3 separate regions of the Homo sapiens genome follow, and regions 2 and 3 are each reported to be linked to region 1. The links are microRNA targets in miRTarBase. Many come from high-throughput screens and were not tested one by one. Region 1 holds a microRNA gene; each other region holds the end of a gene's coding sequence.

Region 1 (4,470 bases):
GCCGTTTTTGGTTTTAAATTTCTCAGCATTACCTGTGAAAGAATCCAAGTGTACATTTCCACAGTCCTGTCTATGAACACAGAAGAAGGAGTGATTGGCAGCAAACTGATGCTTCAATGCCATGATAGGAGCAAGTGGGCTTCAAAACTATCCTAATACCTGTCCTTTTTTTTTTTGAGACAGAGTCTCGCTCTGTCGCCCAGGGTGAAGTGCAGTGGCACGATCTCGGCTCACTACAAGCTCCGCCTCCTGGGTTCATGCCATTCTCCTGCCTCAGCCTCCCCAGCAGCTGGGACTACAGGCGCCTGCCACCACGCCCGGCTAATTTTTTTGTATTTTTTTAGTAGAGACGGGGTTTCACCGTGTTAGCCAGGATGATCCACCCGCCTCAGCCTCCCAAAGTGCTGGGATTACAGGCGTGAGCCACCACGCCCGACCAATATCTGTCTTCTTGATGCAAATCCAAGTTTAGCATCCTCATTTGGGCATTCATTTGTTAATCTATTCTGCAGTCTTCTGATCTACCTCTTATGCTACTCTTCTTTGCAATTTTACTGTAAGGCAAGAAATTCCTAGTCTTCAGTAACCTGGAGTTAAGATACCAGTCCCCATCAGTTACAATCAAGGACTCACCTCAGCACTGAAAATGCCTGGGTCCCACACGTCACAGGCAATGTGCCAGTATGTTCTTATCAGACTCCAGAAAGCACTCCCAGATTGCATGTCACCAAGGAGACAGTGATCACAAGCCCCAGGGAAAACCTGCAAGGTAGCATAGAACCCATGTCCCTCCACAGGCAGTCCTCCTACAGCTCAACAGAAGACAGTGTTGGAATGTGTTGAATTCTGACATTCTGTTCTACCACCTCACGGGGACAGCGCCTGTAAAAGCCTTTGGGAGAGTGTGGCTGGGAAATGGGCACATTACTTCTCAGTGCACATCCAGCAAGTGATCCTCCATGTGTCAAAAAATCTTATGCTTGCTGGGCGCGGTGGCTCACACCTGTAATCCCAGCACTTTGGGAGACTGAGGTGGGAGGATCAACTGAGGTCAGGAGTTTAAGACCAGCCTGGCCAGCATGGTGGCACCCCATCTCCACTAAAAACACAAAACATAAGCCAGGCACGGCTGTAATCTCAGCTACTTGGGCGGCTGATGCAGGAGAATTGCTTGAACCCGGGAGGCAGAGGTTGCAGTGAGCTGAGATCACTGCACTGCACTCCAGGCTGGGCAATAGAGTGGGATCCTGTCTCAAAAAAAAAAAAAGAAAAATAAGGCCGGGCGCGGTGGCTCACGCCTGTAATCCCAGCACTTTGGGAATCCGAGGCGGGCAGATCACAAGGTCGGGAGTTTGAGACCAGCCTGGCCAACATAGTGAAACTCTGTCTCTACTAAAAATGCAGAAAACAGGCTGGGTGCGGTGGCTCACGCCTGTAATCCTAGCACTTTGTGAGGCCGAGACGGGCGGATCACCTGAGGTTGGGAGTTGGAGACCAGTCTGACCAACATGGAGAAACCCCGTCTCTACTAAAAATACAAAATTAGCTGGGCGTGGTGGCGCATGCCAGTAATCCCAGCTACTCCGGAGGCTGAGGCAGGAGAATGGCTTGAACCCGGGAGGCAGAGGTTGCTGTGAGCCGAGATCGTGCCATTGCACTCTAGCCTGGGCAACAAGAGTGAAACTCCATCTCAGAAAATAAAAAGAAAAATAGTGATCTCAGGTGATCCATCCACCTCAGCCTCCCAAAGTGCTGGGATTACAGGCGTGAGCCACCGCGCCCGGCCTCAGCTTGCTTCTTTCATTGTGTTGTGACTTGCCTCGAAATTCTTTCCAGCAAGAGATCCAAGAACCCGCTTTTGGGGTCTGGATTGGTTGCCTCTTCTCTGGCAATGGTGTGACCCAGGCTATCCCTGAATCCAAGCATTATAGCTGCTACGGAACCCAGCCTCACAACCCAGAGACCCTGGTCATTTCCTTAAAGCTGGGCTGAAGTCCAGTTTATGGCGCAGAACAAGCACCACGGTTTAGCTTTTACCTGCAGTGGCTCCTGGAGCCCCCCGCCCCCCCTCCCCCCCATGGTGTTTTTTCGGTGCTCGCCTCAGTCATTGGACCTCAGCTATGACAGCACTTTCATTCTGGCACCAGAAAGTGCCCTCAAGGCTGAGTGCCACAGACTGAGAAGTACCCTCCCTGTATTGTCCAGTACCTGGAAACTGCAGGCACATCCTCTATGCAGAAGATAAGAGATTTAAAACTGACTTCTGAATGTTGCTCAATAGTGAAAGGTAGATTGAGCATTCTCTCCAGTTCTCAGGAACAATGCAGAGCCTTGTAATGCAAATCCTAGGCCTGCCCTGGGGCTCATGCCTGTAATCCCAGCACTTTGGGGATCCCCAGCCTGAATAACACCTTTTAAATTACTTTGTTTTCTTTTTCTTTTTCTCTTTTTTTTTTCTTAGTCTTGCTCTGTTGCCCAGGCTGGAGTGCCATGGCGCGATCATCAGCTCACTGCAGCCTCCGCCTCCTGGGTTCAAGCAATTCTCCTGCCTCAGCCTCCTGAGAAACTGGGATTACAGGCGCCTGCCACCACACCTGGCTAATTTTTGTATTTTTAGTAGAGACAGGGTTTCACCATATTGGCCAGGCTGGTCTCGAACTCCCGACCTCATGATCCGCCCACCTCAGCCTCCCAAAGTGCTGGGATTACAGACGTGAGCCACCGCACACGTCCAGCACCTTTTAAATTACGTGGACAGGCCCGGTGTGGTGGCTCACCTGTAATCCTAGCAGTTTGGGAAGCCAAGGCAGAAGGATTGCTTGAGCACAGGACTTCGAAACCAGCCTGGGAAACATACTTAGCCCCCTTATCTACAAAAAATGCAAAAATTAACTGGGTATGGTGGTACGTACTTATAGTCCCAGCTACTCAGGAGGCGGAGGTGGCTCACTTGAATCTGGAAGGCAGAGGTTGCAGAGAGCCAAGATCTGGCCACTGCCCTCTGGGCACCGGTGTAGTCTCAGCTACTCGGGAGACTGATGCAGAAGAACTGCCTAAACCCAGGAGGTGGAGGTTGCTGTGAGTTCCCACAACTGCACTCCAGGCTGGGCAATAGAGTGAGATCCTGTCTCAAAAAATGAAAAACATTTTTGCTCTACAAGATTACATTTAATTGGCAACTACCTAGCTTTGAACCAGCAAGGGGAAAAGTAACAGAACGGCATGTCTGTCTCACTAACTTCTTGTTTTTTTGAGACAGGTTCTTGCTCTGTCCCCCAGACTGCAGAGCGGCAACACAGCCGTCGGCTCACTGCAGCCTCAACGTCCCTGGCCATACACAACTGCAGCATTTTGGCTAAACCAGCATGGCTTACAGAGAACAAGTAGTTCTTTCTCTCTCTTTTTTAAGACAAGCGTCTTGCTCTGTTGCCCAGACTGGAGTTCGGTGGCGCGATCTCGGCTCACTGCAACCTCCGTCTGCCGGGTTCAAGCAGTTCTCCTGCCTCAGCCTACCGAGTAGCTGGGACTGCAAGCCTGTGCCATCATGCCCAGCTAATTTTTTTGTATTTTTAGTAGAGATGGGGTTTCACCATGCTGGCCAGGCTGGTCTCGAACTCCTGGCCTTGTGATCCGCCCTCCTCGGCCTCCCAAAGTGCTAGGATAATAGGCGTGCGCCACTGCGTCCTGCCACAATAGTTCTTTCAATGGTAAGACTAGTTGAAAACCTGAGTTAGATGTGTATCTCTAATCTTAGTGATATTTAAATGTAAATAAAAATGTTATGTCTGGAACACACTTGGGCTGCTTGGGATATATTCAGATAAATACTATTATACATAATTTATAAATAAATACTATTTATTTACTAATAGGGTATCAGAAAGGTACAATCCCTATGTCTCCAGGTTGACATAGAAATTTTCTACTGGTCCGAAAGTTGCATCTGTACGACTGGCCAGTTGCTTCTGGTTCAACAAGGACCTAACCTGCCAATCACACAGGACAGCTGGGGGCTGACATTCCAAATTGTAATCTTTACTAGGCACAGAGGCTTAGCAGGCCTCTGGTTTAATAACACACGAAAGTAACTGCTTGAAGTAGCAAGGCACTCACTCACAAGGCACCTATAGAGTTGGTACTTATGGTCTGGAAATAGCCACATTGTAAGCTGACCACCAGTTATAATTACCAAATATTGGCAGGGCACAGGGGATCATGCGTGTAATCCCAGCACTTTGGGAGGACGAAGCAGGAGGATTGAGCCCAGGCCTCAGCTTGCTTCTTTCGCTGTGTTGTGACTTGCCTCGAAATTCTTTCCAGCAAGAGATCCAAGAACCCGCTTTTGGGGTCTGGATTGGTTGCCTCTTCTCTGGCAATGGTGTGACCCAGGCTATCCCTGAATCCAAGCATTATAGCTGCTACGGAACCCAGCCTCACAACCCAGAGACCGTGGTCATTTCCTTAAAGCTG
Region 2 (3,483 bases), not on the chromosome of region 1:
AAGTGATCCACCTGCCTTGGCCTCCCAAAGTGCTGGGATTCCAGGTGTGAGGTGTGAGCCACCGTGCCTGACCAATAAAGCTCTTTTTTTTTTTTTTTTTTGGAGACAAAGTCTTACTCTTGTCCCCCAGGCTGGAGTGCAATGCCTTGATCTTGGCTCACTGCATCCTCCGCCTCCCAGGTTCAAGTGATTCTTCTGCCTCAGCCTCCCGAGTAGCTGGGATTACAGGCGCCTGCCACCACATCCGGCTAATTTTTGTATTTTTCGTAGAGATGGGGTTTCACCATGTTGGCCAGGCTGGTCTCGAACTCCTGACCTCAGGTGGTCCACCCGCCTCACTCCCAAAGTGCTGAGGTTACAGGCATGAGCCACCGCGCCTGGCCTAAAGCTCTTTTTTAAAAACCATCTTTGATTAGCTGAAGGATTTAACTCCTCTTGTGAGAGGGCAGTTTTTACTAGCCATGGGACCCTGGGTAAATCTCTTTATTTCCTGGTGTCTCCGTTTCCTCCCCTGTGAACGAGCGATAACAGCTCCCTCAGGAGGAAGGTGGAAGGCGGTGAAGCACCTGGCATATGCAGTAGTGCTGAGATAGCACCTGTTCATCTCTCCCAAGACACCACTGTTCGGGTTGACAGGTGGTAGTGAAACCAAGCAGAATTCTCGGAGGGTGAGTCCAATCCAGACAGACTGGGTCCAGCAGATCCCTGAGTTAAAAGGAAATAACTTAACAGCCTTGACCTAGAATCAGATGGATGCTCATGTGCAGAGAAAATGGGATTTGCCACCTGTTCTCAACTCAAGGCAGGCTCTGTGTCTGGCGGCTTCAAGGAAGTGTCCCTTGGCCATGGCTCTTCCACTACGGGAGCAAGCAGGAGGCACCCAGGTCTCCCTGCCCACCCAGAGTCCCTGCAGGAGGCCCTCCAGATCTCTCAGTAACGGGCCCTCTTTCTTCTTTTTTTCAGCCTGGGGACTCCTCGGGATGGAAAGGCCTTCCGGATCTTTGCTGTCAGGCAGTGAATTTCCAGCACCAGGGGAGAAGGGGCGTCTTCAGGAGGGCTTCGGGGTTTTGCTTTTATTTTTATTTTGTCATTGCGGGGTATATGGAGAGTCAGGAAACTTCCTTTGACTGATGTTCAGTGTCCATCACTTTGTGGCCTGTGGGTGAGGTGACATCTCATCCCCTCACTGAAGCAACAGCATCCCAAGGTGCTCAGCCGGACTCCCTGGTGCCTGATCCTGCTGGGGCCTGGGGGTCTCCATCTGGACGTCCTCTCTCCTTTAGAGATCTGAGCTGTCTCTTAAAGGGGACAGTTGCCCAAAATGTTCCTTGCTATGTGTTCTTCTGTTGGTGGAGGAAGTTGATTTCAACCTCCCTGCCAAAAGAACAAACCATTTGAAGCTCACAATTGTGAAGCATTCACGGCGTCGGAAGAGGCCTTTTGAGCAAGCGCCAATGAGTTTCAGGAATGAAGTAGAAGGTAGTTATTTAAAAATAAAAAACACAGTCCGTCCCTACCAATAGAGGAAAATGGTTTTAATGTTTGCTGGTCAGACAGACAAATGGGCTAGAGTAAGAGGGCTGCGGGTATGAGAGACCCCGGCTCCGCCCTGGCACGTGTCCTTGCTGGCGGCCCGCCACAGGCCCCCTTCAATGGCCGCATTCAGGATGGCTCTATACACAGCAGTGCTGGTTTATGTAGAGTTCAGCAGTCACTTCAGAGATGTATCTTGTCTTTGTCAGGCCCTTCGTCTTCATGGCCCACCTGTTTTCTGCCGTGACCTTTGGTCCCATTGAGGACTAAGGATCGGGACCCTTTCTTTACCCCCTACCCGTTGTGGCTCCCACCCTGCCTCGGACTGGTTTACGTGTCCTGGTTCACACCCAGGACTTTTCTTTGCAAGCGAACCTGTTTGAAGCCCAAGTCTTAACTCCTGGTCTCGTAAGGTTCCACTGAGACGAGATGTCTGAGAACAACCAAAGAAGGCCTGCTCTTTGCTGCTTTTAAAAAATGACAATTAAATGTGCAGATTCCCCACGCACCCGATGACCTATTTTTTCAGCCGTGGGAGGAATGGAGTCTTTGGTACATTCCTCACCGAGGTTAGCAGCTCAGTTTGTGGTTATGAAACCGTCTGTGGCCTCATGACAGCGAGAGATGGGAATACACTAGAAGGATCTCTTTTCCTGTTTTCGTGAAACGACTCTTGCCAAACGTTCCCGAGGCGCCAAGGAGTGTAGTACACCCTGGCTGCCATCACTCTATAAAAGTGCTTCATGAGCCCAGACCAAAAGCCCACAGTGAAATGAAGTACCCTTTTGTAAATAGCATTTTTTTGCAGAAGGTGAAAATTCCACTCTCTACCACCGGGCCAGCCAATAGATCACTTTGGTGAATGCTAGTTTCAAATTTGATTCAAAATATTTCTTAGGTGAAAGAACTAGCAGAAAGTCAAAAACTAAGATACTGTAGACTGGACAAGAAATTCTACCTGGGCACCTAGGTGATGCCTTCTTTCTTTGATTGCCTTTCTAATAAATGCAGAATCTGAAGGTAAATAGGTTTAAAACAAAACAAAAACCCACCCCTTTAAGGAGTTGGTAAAAAGCAGTTCAACTCTTAGCTTGACTGAGCTAAAATTCACAGGACTACGTGCTTTGTGCATTGTAGTCTAGTCGTAATTCATAGGTACTGACTCCTCAGCCCCAAATGTCGGAGAGGAAGAATTCGGTCAGCCTGTCAGGTCGTGAGTCCAGTTACCACCAAACATCTGGGAAACTTCTGGGTGCTGGGTGCTCTGCTGCTGGACTTTTGTGGCTGTGTCTGTGTCTGCAAGATAAATTAGATCGCCCTGTGGGGTTTGCAGAATTAGTGAAGGGTCCAGGACGATCCCAGTGGGCTCGCTTCCAAAGCATCCCACTCAAGGGAGACTTGAAACTTCCAGTGTGAGTTGACCCCATCATTTAAAAATAAAGTCCCCGGGTTCCTTAATGCCTCCTTCACTGGGCCTTCCTAGCAGGATAGAAAGTCCTTGCCCAGAGCAGGACCTGGCTGTCTTTTTTTTTTTTTTTTTTTTTTTCCCGAGACCAAGTTTCACTCTGTTGCCCAAGGTAGAGTGCAGTGGCGTGATCTCTGCTCATTGCAACTGCCGCCTCCCGGGTTCAAGCAATTCTCATGCATCAGCCTCCCAAGTACCTGGGACTACAGGCGTGAGCTACCATGCCCGGCTAATTTTTGTATTTTTAGTAGAGATGGGGTTTCATTATGTTGGCCAGGCTGGTCTCGAACTCCTTACCTCAGGTGATCCACCCACCTTGGCCTCCCGAAGTGCTGGGATTACAGGCATGAGCCACTGCGCCCGGCCATGGACCTGGCTGTCTTTATCATCCCCACAAACATTTTGAAACTGGAATATTTGTCTTCAGAAAATGGAAACAAGACTATAAATGATAAGCCCTGTCCCTAGCACCACCTCTCCTGTGT
Region 3 (3,483 bases), not on the chromosome of region 1:
AGACCCCGCCCCCTATGACTCCTAAGACTCCACCCCCAGTGGCTCCTAAGCCCCCATCTCGAGGGCTCCTTGATGGGCTCGTGAATGGGGCAGCCTCTTCGGCTGGAATCCCTGAGCCACCAAGGCTGCAGGGCAGGGGTGGGGAGCTGTTTGCTAAGCGGCAGAGCCGTGCGGACAGGTATGTGGTGGAAGGTACACCTGGTCCTGGTCTTGGCCCTCGGCCTAGAAGTCCTTCTCCTACCCCGTCTCTGCCCCCTTCCTGGAAATATTCACCCAACATCCGTGCCCCGCCTCCTATTGCTTACAACCCACTGCTCTCTCCCTTTTTCCCCCAGGCGGCCCGAACTCTCCCTAAGGCCCAATCCCAGGGGCCTCGGGCAACACCCAAGCAGGGCATCAAGGCTCTAGATTTTATGCGGCATCAGCCCTATCAACTTAAAACTGCCATGTTCTGTTTTGATGAGGTTCCCCCGACTCCTGGCCCTATCGCCTCAGGGTCCCCCAAAACTGCCCGAGTCCAGGAGATTCGCCGGTTTTCCACTCCGGCACCCCAGCCCACTGCAGAACCCCTGGCTCCCACTGTGCTTGCCCCCCGAGCAGCCACTACACTGGATGAGCCCATCTGGAGAACAGAACTGGCCTCAGCCCCTGTTCCTAGCCCAGCCCCTCCTCCAGAGGCTCCCAGGGGCCTTGGGGCTTCTCCCAGCTCCTGCGGTTTCCAGGTAGCCAGGCCCCGATTTTCAGCCACCAGAACAGGATTGCAAGCTCATGTGTGGAGGCCTGGGGCAGGGCACCAGTGAACAGGCACAGGTCCCAGGACCAAGGAGAGGTGGAACATCCAGTTCCTAAAGTTGCTTCTCCTACCCTATCCCATCCCCTGTCACGCATCTGGAAGCTAAATTGCCTCCTGCCAGAGATGGTTTCCAAGTTGATGTCCCCTTCCCCCACCTTCCTCCTCACTCTCTACCTCCCTGCCGCTTTCCAACCAAGTATGTCTGCTTTGGTATCTTTGCCTCTCTTTGTCTCTGCATTTCCTTTCCTGGATCTCTGTCTTTATTTCCAGGCTTCTCCACCCATATTCCTCCACAGATCTCTCTTCCTTGACATTTGTGCTTTTCTCCCTGGGCCTCATTTTAATGTTCAGTGAGAAGTAAACAGAGCAGAAGTGACCACTGGGACTTCAGGCAAGAAGCTCACCACCAGGCACACAGCAAAGGGACTGAACTGACCCCTGTTTGCACTAAGCCACCCCCACCCCCCACTCTGCTTTCCCAAGCTTGACTGGCATATACCTAGGCCTGTGTGTGTGTGTGTGTGTGTGTGTGTGTGTGTGTGTGTGCTCTTCCGTCTAAGGCATGAATAAGAGGGGAGGTCAAAATAAAGACCCAATCTGAGGCCGGGCACGGTGGCTCACGCCGGTAATCCCAGCACTTTGGGAGGCCGAGGCGGGCGGATCACGAGGTCAGGAGATCGAGACCATCCTGGCTAACACGGTGAAACCCCATTTCCACTAAAAATACAAAAAATTAGCTGGGCGTGGTGGCGAGCGCCTGTAGTCCCAGCTACTCGGGAGGCTGAGGCAGGAGAATGGCATGAACCTGGAAGGCGGAGCTTGCAGTGAGCTGAGATTGCGCCACTGCACTCCAGCCTGGGCGACGGAGCGAGACTCTGTCTCAAAACAAACAAACAAACAAAAGACCCAATCTGAGTCTTATCGTTGTACTGATAGAAGGGTCAGATATCCCCACATGGAGTTGAGTGGGAGAAAGAGATTCACTAGAGAATAACTCCTTAGAGACCAATGTCTGTAGCAGGTGTACAGCATCTTGTGAAAGTTATGGAGCATGAAAAGACTGAAGGGCCAGGACAGTTTGCATGGGCTGAGTTATACCAGCTAGACCAGGAATAGAACAAAGAATTCTATACCTCAGGATTTCAAAAAGTTAGCAACTTGAGAGGCCAGTGCTGAGCAACCCAGTACCCAGGAAATGAAAAAAAGAAAGAAAATTCCCTCCGAGAATGAACAAATCATTGGCTTCATTGCCTCATGAGCTTGAGAGAAAGGAGAAGAGAGCCAGAGTGTGGCAAGTGAGGCCAAAATCAGAAGCATGGCAGAAATGAGTGTAAGTGATTGAGCCACAGACAGAAGTGTGGCGAGGGACAATGCCATATTGGGAGAAGGTAAAGTTGAGTAACAAGAAACCAACCGTGTGTGAGAGGGGGATTGGAAAAAAATTTGAGGGAGAAGAATGTTAGAATGGAAGGGAATGATGGTGGAAGGGAGGTGTGAGGGTGTGTGCTGAGTGTTGAAAGAACGGTTGGTGTCTGTGTGATTTTCCTTGAGTCTGTTCTTCAGTGTGTCTTCTGCAGCTTGCCATGACTGCCTGGGAAAGAGTAGGGAAATACCCAGAGCCAAAACCTCCTTTCAGTCCCACCCCATCCCTCAAAACCCCAGCTATTGCTTCTTTTCAGCTTCAGGTCCTGATCTCCAATCTTAGTATGGACTCCCTTCTCACCAAGACCACCACCAGCTACGTTTGCTGTGTAATCTGGAAAGTGATAATTTCCTTTGCTTGTTGGGTGTGAGTCACAATACTTTGGTTTGTGCACAAGAATAAATTTATGCCCCATACCTTCTGTTGCTGTTATCTTCTAGTTTTATTCCTAAATCCTGATCTCTCCTTAATCTTCTTTAACCCATTCCCCTGATCTGATTTCTGATCTGTCTCTTTTCCTGCCCTCCCATTTTTCATCCTTTTGCCCTTTGTTCCCAGGTCTTTTGCTCTTTTATACAAATTCTGTCCTGCTTTGATTTAGCCACCTCCATCACTCTTCTTGGTTCCCTCTCCCCACAGTCTTCATCCAAGTTCTCCCCTTTCCCTCCCTTGCCTCATACTTTCTAGGTAAGGCTTCAGTTCACAGAACTCAGAGAAGTTGGAAAGGCCCTCTGAGCCCTTTGCTATCAACATTTCCTCGCTCCTTAGAGGAAGCAACCATATTAAACAGTCTCTGGGAAGTAAATGAAGAGAAAGCAATGGCTGGAGGGCTGGAGGGGAAGGTGGGATGGGAGAGGGAAGAATAAAGCTGAATTGAGACTACTAAAGAAGGGAGGGCGTTGGAGGTAGGTGAGAATTAGACTTCAGAGAAGGAAAGTGCCATTGCTCTGATTCTGCCAGCAGAGGGCACATTTGTGCCAATAATCAGACCCAGGCCGCAGACTCTTCCAAGTGCACTGTCTTAGAATTCCAAAAAAAGATCTCAGAGACCATAGGTTAAATAGCCTGTCTTCACCCACTCAGTCGTTTTGGGTACTCAGTTGAAGGAGATCAAACTTTCAGTTTGTTTTTGTTTTTGAGGGTGAGGGTGGTAGTGATGATGAAGTCACCTTTAGCTATTTATAGTTCTTCTTTTTTTTTGAGATGGAGTCTCCCTCTGTGGCTCAGGCTGGAGTGCAGTGGTGCGATCTCAGCTCACTGCAACCTC

Evidence for each region. The annotated mature microRNA hsa-miR-512-3p reads AAGUGCUGUCAUAGCUGAGGUC and lies in region 1 at 2,111-2,132, opposite strand. An mRNA with a match to its seed (bases 2 to 7 or 8) in the 3' UTR can be bound and repressed. Matches are read on the target gene's strand: a 7mer-m8 pairs with bases 2 to 8, a 7mer-A1 pairs with bases 2 to 7 and ends in A, and an 8mer does both.
Region 2: miRTarBase lists CRISPLD2 as a target of hsa-miR-512-3p. The part of its 3' UTR that is shown has no 7-base or 8-base seed match.
Region 3: the mRNA of SYNPO2L is a reported target of hsa-miR-512-3p. Seed matches in the 3' UTR shown: 7mer-m8 at 1,426-1,432.

Annotation. Positions count from the first base shown.
Region 1 is chr19:53,666,875-53,671,344 of GRCh38, reverse strand. It overlaps MIR512-2 (microRNA 512-2), which reads right to left and starts at 2,188; the gene lies at 2,091-2,188. All of the region lies in intron 2 of LOC107985342 (a long non-coding RNA gene), which reads right to left. RefSeq lists enhancers at 1,301-2,188, 2,189-3,077, 3,966-4,470.
Region 2 is chr16:84,905,625-84,909,107 of GRCh38, forward strand. CRISPLD2 (cysteine rich secretory protein LCCL domain containing 2) reads left to right here. Exons shown (of 15, transcript NM_031476.4): 15 at 964-3,483. The coding sequence ends at 1,018. Among named protein-coding and RNA genes, the nearest start is that of LINC02176, 21 kb to the right of the region's middle.
Region 3 is chr10:73,644,035-73,647,517 of GRCh38, reverse strand. It overlaps SYNPO2L (synaptopodin 2 like), which reads left to right. Exons shown (of 4, transcript NM_001114133.3): 4 at 1-2,632. The coding sequence ends at 800. Among named protein-coding and RNA genes, the nearest start is that of MYOZ1, 4.3 kb to the right of the region's middle. RefSeq lists an enhancer at 3,371-3,420.